Linked DNA regions of Homo sapiens. The protein of the gene in region 2 interacts with the protein of the main gene of each other region in a pairwise test. Each region holds a gene or a part of one and is shown on either strand. Other genes may lie near its edges. The genes, in order: RAB6A and ARFGAP3.

Region 1 (3,825 bases), on a different chromosome or scaffold from region 2:
AGATCTTTTTGCAGCCCTACATAAAAATGTCTTTACGTACTATCCATATCTATATTACAGGAAGAAAAGCCTGAAAACAAGTATCAAGTTCTTGCATCATGATAAAGTCGTTTCCAAGCTTTCAAATTTTTTTTTTTTTTTTTAGACAGACTCTCATTCTTGTCGCTCAGGCTGAAGTGCAGTGGTGTGATCTCGGCTCACTGCAACCTCTGCCTCCCGGGTTCAAACGATTCTCCTGCCTCAGCCTCCCGAGTAGCTGGGATTACAGGCGCCCGCCACCACGCCCAGCTAATTTTTGTATTTTTAGAAAAGATGGGGTTTCGCCATGTTGGCCAGGCTGGTCTTCAACTCCTGACCTCAGGTGATCTGTCCATCCTGGCCTCCCAAAGTGCTGGGATTACAGGCGTGAGCCACCACACCTGGCCGCTTTCAAATTTTAAGAAATGACATGCTATATATCAAAACATAAAAGAGAATATTCAGGAAAAAAAAAACACCTAAGAAATAACACTGGAAATTAAATAATGTTTTTGGGTGCAGGTCTCAAAGTACTGCATTTAAGATATTCACTGTTTAGGTGACAAGTATCTCTTCAAGGGGTAGTGGGCTAGAATACAGATTTTACACTGTATTTAAAGAAAACATTCCAAAGGATGAAAGACAAAAATCCAACAAATAAATACACATTACTTTTTTTTTTTTTTTTTGCAACGGAGTTTCGCTCTTGTTGCCCAGGCTAGAGTGCAATGGCGCAATCTCAGCTCACTGCAACCTCTGCATCCTGGATTCAAGCGATTCTCCTGCCTCAGCCTCCCAAGTAGCTGGGATTATAGGCGCCCGCCACCACGCCTGGCTAATTTTTTGTATTTTTAATAGAGATGGGGTTTCATCATGTTGGCCAAGCTGGTCTCAAACTCCTGACCTCAGATGATCCACCTGCCTCAGCCTCCCAAAGTGCTGGGATTACAGGTGTGAGCCACCGCACCCTGCCCACATAACTTCTTTTTTGTCAGTCACTTTGATACGCATCCTATCCTGACAAAAAAAATCTTGAAGTTCACAAATTGAAATCTTTTTGAATGCCTCAAGGGTGGCATTTAGAAGGTCTTTAGCAGGTTTAATTTCTTCATAAAAATTCTCCTTTAATTCTCTGTAAAGCTCTTTGTTTTCATTTTTCCAAATCAAGATGACTGCCAAGTACTACTCACTCGGTAATAAGAGTTTTTCTCAACAACTGTAAACTATCTTTGGTAACTTTGCTAAGTACTTCTTATGGTGACAATCATTGATAACTTTGATTGCAGTTTTCTAACCTGGAATGTTGCAGAAAATTGCACACTGAAAATATTACTCACTGTTCGATCCTCCAAGTACATAGTTTTTGATAAAAAGTCAATGCCAATTGTTGCCTGTAAAACAAAACAAAGAAGTTAACAAATAATAAGTTTAATGGTGGCCAGCAGTTTAGGATTCAAATGGGATTCATGATTGTGGAAGAAATAATGAATAAACAAATCAATACAACATAGTCAATTAAGGACAATTAAGGACAAACAAAATTTCCAGTGATAATGATTTTCATGTATTCAGCACTTGCTTCATATCAGAGATTGTTTTAAGCCTTTTACATGATCATCTCTAATCTTTATACATTCCTGCCAGGTAGCTTATTCTCATCCCTACTTTTCTCATTTTACAAATAACAAGACAATGGCAACTTTGGTTTAAATATTTGTATTTGAACTTTAGTTTGAGTATCTGATTGTTCTCCACTCAGAATGGTAAGTATCTGCCCCAAGAGCAGTTTTATAAAATACTGTTGATATATTGTCAACTGTCCTAATGCCATAGACAGCCAGAGACTCACAAACATCATAACTTTCCATAAGAGACATGATTTTTCCAATATAAAATAAAAGTCATTAGGTAAGGAAAACAAGTTTTCCTCTGTACCACACAATGATAGCTTCCTTCTGTGGTGAAAACAAATGTAAAGTTCTATTGCCTGGCTGCTGTTTTCCCTATCAAGAGAAAATGGTGAAATAATAAGAGAATAGAAAGAAGGCAGACTACAAAAAAGAAAGGAAAAAAAGTATACAAGTTAAAAAACAGTCCAGTATTAATTAGGGGAGATAAATAAAAAGAATGGAAGAAAGACAGACTCCAGAAAGAGGATGTTGATATGGACTCTATTTTAGAAGTTTTACCACCTCATTAATGTTTGTGTGCACATATACTATGTATATATGTGCGTGTACATACATACTTTTTCCCTAAATATCTTTGTGCCATATTCCTTAAAACAGAAACTGAGTCTGTGCATTTTAAAATATGAGTCACTAAGAATTTTAAGTTCCTAAAAAACAATCAAAAACTAGATCAGAAAAGTGGTCCATCAGTTGGGGATTTTATTTCTGTTAGCAGAAAAATAGAATTTTGTGTGTGTCATAGTTGAGTTCTCACGAGATCTGATGGTTTTATAAAAGGATTTCCCCTCTCTTTGCTCTGTGCTTCTCCTTGTTGCTGCCATGTGAAGAAGGACATGTTTGCTTCCCCTTCTGCCATGATTGTAAGTTTCCTGAGGCCTCCCCAGCCATGTGGAACTTGAGTCTATTAAACCTCTTTCCTTTATAAATTACCCAGTCTTGGGTTATCTCTTTATTAGCAGCATGAGAACAAACTAATACATGTGTCTCCTTTAATTTCTCCCAGCAGTGTTTTGTATAGTCTTATGCTGTTTGTTAAATTTGTTCCTAAGTATTTTATTCTTTTCTGATGCTTCCGTAAATAAAATTCAAATATATATGTGTGTGTGTATATATATATATATATATATATATATATATATATATATTTTTTTTTTTTTTTTTTTTTTTTGAGACAGTCTCACACTCTTGCCCAAGCTGGTATATAGGGGTGTGATTTTGTCTCAGTGCAGCCTCAACCTCCTGGCTCAAGCAATCCTCTCGAGTAGCTGGGACTACAGGTGCATGCCACCATGCCCCACTAATTTCTGTATTTTTTTATAGAGACAGGGTTTTGCCATGTTGTCCAGGCTAGTCTGGAACCCCTAGGTTCAAGAGATCTTCCCCACTTGGCCTTCCAACACGCTGGGACTATAGGCATGAGCCACTACACCCTGCCTAAAGATAATATCTTTATATGAAAAATCAATGCAATGTTGATAAGTCTTTACATGTTTTTACATATATTCAAGAATGAAAGCTACAGTAAATTACATAAATTGATTATCTACTAAGTGCCGATTTATACACATTGCCCCATTTAGTTCTCATTTATTCGTTCATCGATTATTTATTTATTTATTTATTTAGAGACAGAGTCTCGCTCAGTCGCCCAGGCTGGAGTGCAGTGGCGTGATCTCGGCTCACCGCAATTTCTGCCTCCTGGGTTCAAGCAATTTTAGTGCCTCAGCCTCTCAAGTAGCTGGGATTACAGGCATTCACCACCAAGCCCAGCTACTTTTTGTATTTTTAGTAGAGATGGGGTTTTGTCATGTTGGACAGGCTGGTCTCGAACTCCTGGCCTCAAGTGATTCCCCCCGACCTCGGCCTCCCAAAGTGCCAGGATTATAGGCATGAGCCAATGTGCCCAGCTTGCTCATCAAATATTTATTAAGCACGTACTTGCAAGTACTGTGTAAGGTACTAGAGTGATGAACAAACATGCAGTTAGTCTCTACCCAAATTGGACGGAACACATTTAAAAATCATGTACACCTGTCCACATTCATCAGGAATATTTATTGAACTCTATTCCTTCCAAATACTGGGGGGGAAAAAAAGAAAGATTTATTTTACTTAT
Region 2 (3,825 bases):
CGTTTCCTGACCATCTCCGGGGATTAAAAGAAAAAATTAATGGGGCATGGTGGCACGCCTATAGTCCCAGCTACTTGGGAGGCTCACCTAAGCCTGGGAGGCCGAGACTGCAGTGAGCCATGATCATGCCACTACACTCCAGCCTGGGTGACAGAGTGGGATACTGTCTCAAAAAAAAAAAAAAAAAAAAAAAGGGACTGTGCCATGCCAGAATTCACGATAGCTTAGGATGGAAAAGCAGTCTGGCCAGATATACACACCTCATTAAGGCAGTCCAAGAAGTTCAGAGGAGAGAGGCAGATCCCAGGGAGGTCTTAGGAAAGGAAGGGTGACAGAAGAGAATGCAGAGGCCTTAACAGACATCATCCAGGTTTTCTCCAGAGAGTAAGGACAGGAAGCACACTGGAAATAAGATGAGCACCAAGCTCCGTGCTATAAGGAGTTGCACAGAAGATGCAGATCATAGGAGGTCAGAGGGGCCAGTAACCAAAGGCCAATATAAGAGGGAAGCAAGAACCCATAAGAGCAAAGAGGCCAGGGACCTCGGTGAGCTAAGATCTGGGTGGGGGAAATGCTAAGAACACATTTACTCTTTCTTGGCAGAAAACAAAACGAAACAAAAAAGGGACAGAGGATAAACTGCTGTTGGAGCAGATGGTATGATATTACATCCTTAATAGACAGAAAGTAGAATTTCTAAATGTGGCTTCTGCCTTCTCTGGCAAGAAGGTCATTAAGAACAAATCTCATGACACTAGCATCTACTCCTTAGGAAGGAAAACGTGGTGTTCAAAGTGTATCTGGATTTCAGCTAGAAACCGACCAGGCTCTCCCTATGGCGGATGAGTGGATCTGTACTGCACCCAGGCTCTGCCTGGAGGAAGAGAGATGACCGATCCCCTTTCAGAGAAGAGAGATCAGGACACTGAAGGAACCGGAAGTTACATCGGAGGAAGGTTCAAAAGATGTGGGATGTGTGCTGGCCTGCAAGGTGATATTCACATGTTTGAGGGACTTATTTTAAGGCACCATGAAAGAACTAAGATCAATTCAGTGAGGAATTTTAAAACTACTTAATAAGCACCTACGAGGAGTCAGGCACTCTGCTAGGGGAAGACAAAGGGCAAGAAGACACATTCAGCTCCTGCCCTCATGAGGCTTGGGAACTGACTTATGGAAGGGAGGCTGACTTGAATGCAGAAGCCTCAGAAGCTGCATTAATGAAAGGCAGAGTTTCTCACGGAGCTGACCTGGGACCAAATGGCTGCCTTGAGGAGAAGGAAGGGTGTAGTAGAGGCTGGACTGCCCTGGAGTGGGAAGAGGGGGGTCAGCACTGGACTGGTGCAGGGTGAGGGTGGGGTGGAACTTCCAGGTTCTTCATGACTCTGTGATACTAAATTTTGTAGATTTAGCAACACTCTAAGGAAATAACATTCTTCATTCTTATAAGCCAATGTACTTATCCTGAAATGTAGAGGAATCAGATTACTTTTAAGTGACTGAACTATTCAGAAGTCAAAGAAGAGAGACAGCCATCGGCTTGGGTCCCCCTGACCAGCATGAGCCTGTGAGGCAGCAGTCCATGCGTGGGCTGGCTGGCGGCTTCTCTGTCTTCCAGTCATCCACGAGAGGCTCTCTGTGCTCATGCTAAGCAGGAGCAACTCAGTAGGAGGACTGGCAACTCACTAAGAGGACCGACAGACCACCAGCCAGGACTCCAGCTGACCTTTGGAAGGATGGGGTGAGTGGGACGACTAACGGCCACTAGTCCCTGCTCAGAAACACACAGACTTTCCTTCCTCATCTCCAAACCTTTATTGGCTTTCTAATGTTTTGATTGTATAGCTCTCAATGCTTTTTTACTTTTATTTTTCCCCTCCCACTCTGTCTTTACCCAATCTTGAAAACATTCCTTAAAATCCCTTGATAAGAGCACCCTAATATCACATTTGCTCTGATTTAGAGCTATAGACAGTTGTCTATTCTAATTAAGGCCATGCTGGCTTTATAAGGCTGAGCAAATTGTTCTAGTTTCATTATCTTGTACTCAATATATAATTATACTGTTTATATCCTAGAAATAATGGAACTCAATAATAAAAAAAAACAAGGACAGGTTTTATCTTATTTTTAACAGAAACAGAACTCTTTCATAATTCATAATGTTCAAGTTCTAATGGGCTAATGAATAATTTGAAAGCAATAAGAGCTCTTCATCGAACTAATATATTTGCTTTCAGAGTCCATGTTTATTTTACCTCAGTTGCCAAAGTACCTAATAGTATCCTCATTCTACTAGTGGTGGTCACCATGCCAAGGAGGACTAGAGAAGGCATTTATGTTCCTATTAGACAATCTGCAGGTCGTGATAAACAATACACCAAGGTCTCTCTGGAAAGAGTCCAGGAGGTGTGGTCTATATAAATATGCCATCTGCTCCCAGGTTTCAAACCATAAGTAACAGTTTCATAGCAACAGTGGCTTCTGGGTCTAACTCTTTTGATTAAGCCTTTGAAGAAGGGGAAGTCTGAAAGATCCCTGAAGCCTTTACAAGGCAGAAAGGCCCCACAGGGGCCTGTCAGTGACCTGGAGCCAGTGAGGGTCTCTGAAGTTCCCATTAGGCAACCTCACTTAGAGCTTTCTTACCAACCCGGCTACCAAGCAACAGTACTGATTTAACTGAAACTTTCTCTTTTTTTTGAGAGAGGGTCTTGCTCTGTTGCCCAGGCTGGAGTGCAGTGGTGCAATCTAATCTCACTGTAACCTCTGCCTCCCAGGCTCAAGTGATCCTCCACCTCAGCCTCCCAAGCAGCTGGGACTACAGGCATGTCCACCATGCTAGGCTAATATTTTTGAAATTTTTTGTAAAGATGAGGTCTCACTATATTTCCCAGTCTGGTCCTGAATTCCTGGGCTCGAGTGATCCTCCTGCCTTGGCTTCCCAAAGTGCTGGGATTATAAGTGTGAGCCACCATGCCCAGCCTAAACTTTCTTTACCTTCCTACACTATCATCTGCAGAAGTTGCTAATAAGCAGTGAAATAATCAAAGATGTTGTGAGAAGCCACACAGGCTAATACAGACCCGTACTGCCAAGAGTTTCCTCTGACCCAGACTTAGTCCACCATTTAATATTCACATCTGAAATGATCTGACACGTATGTAGTTTCCAAATCAAATTACACATTTAATTTTACTCTGTGTAAAATCTATTTACATACCTTTAAAAGGCATGATTTGGGTATCACTTCTGAGTAAAGTGAAACTTGGTGCATTATACAGGCTGCAAAGGATAGGCAAAAATATAAAACCACCCAAGTCTCTGAAAATACCACCATGGAACACCACTAAACTACTACTTTTTTTTTTTTTTTTGGTAAAATCCCTGGACTTGAAATAATTTAGAGCTATACTTAGAGACATTTTTAAGGATAGTATTCTTTATACAATTCCTTGTCTATAAACATTGATAGGAAAATATACAATTTCACAATTAGATCCTAGGTAATATATTTATATCTGTTCTATATATGAAGTGCATGTGTGTGGGTGTGTATATATACACACACACATATATATCTTTTATACATATGAAAACGCTTCAAACCTATAAATTGCCAGACAACTCTAATGCCCTCAGAGACATAAGTGATGGAGCCTTCCAGTAAGCACCGCCCATTTCCGACAGGAACACCTTCAGTTTTCATGAACTGCTAACCCAAAGGTGGTCCTCAATGTGGTTAGTTTAACTACCTAACAATAGTAATCAAACATTTAGGCTGGGCGTGGAGGCTCATGCCTGTAATCTCAGCACTTTGGGAGGCTG

Evidence for each region.
Region 1: the proteins of ARFGAP3 (region 2) and RAB6A interact in binary tests that used the Homo sapiens proteins (3 or more experiments, as listed by UniProt).

What each region holds. Positions count from the first base shown.
Region 1 is NC_000011.10:73,719,491-73,723,315, forward strand, and holds part of RAB6A (ras-related protein Rab-6A), read right to left. Parts: intron 1,410-3,825; coding exon 1,356-1,409; intron 1-1,355. UniProt on the Homo sapiens protein: The small GTPases Rab are key regulators of intracellular membrane trafficking, from the formation of transport vesicles to their fusion with membranes.
Region 2 is NC_000022.11:42,812,055-42,815,879, forward strand, and holds part of ARFGAP3 (ADP-ribosylation factor GTPase-activating protein 3), read right to left. Parts: intron 1-3,825.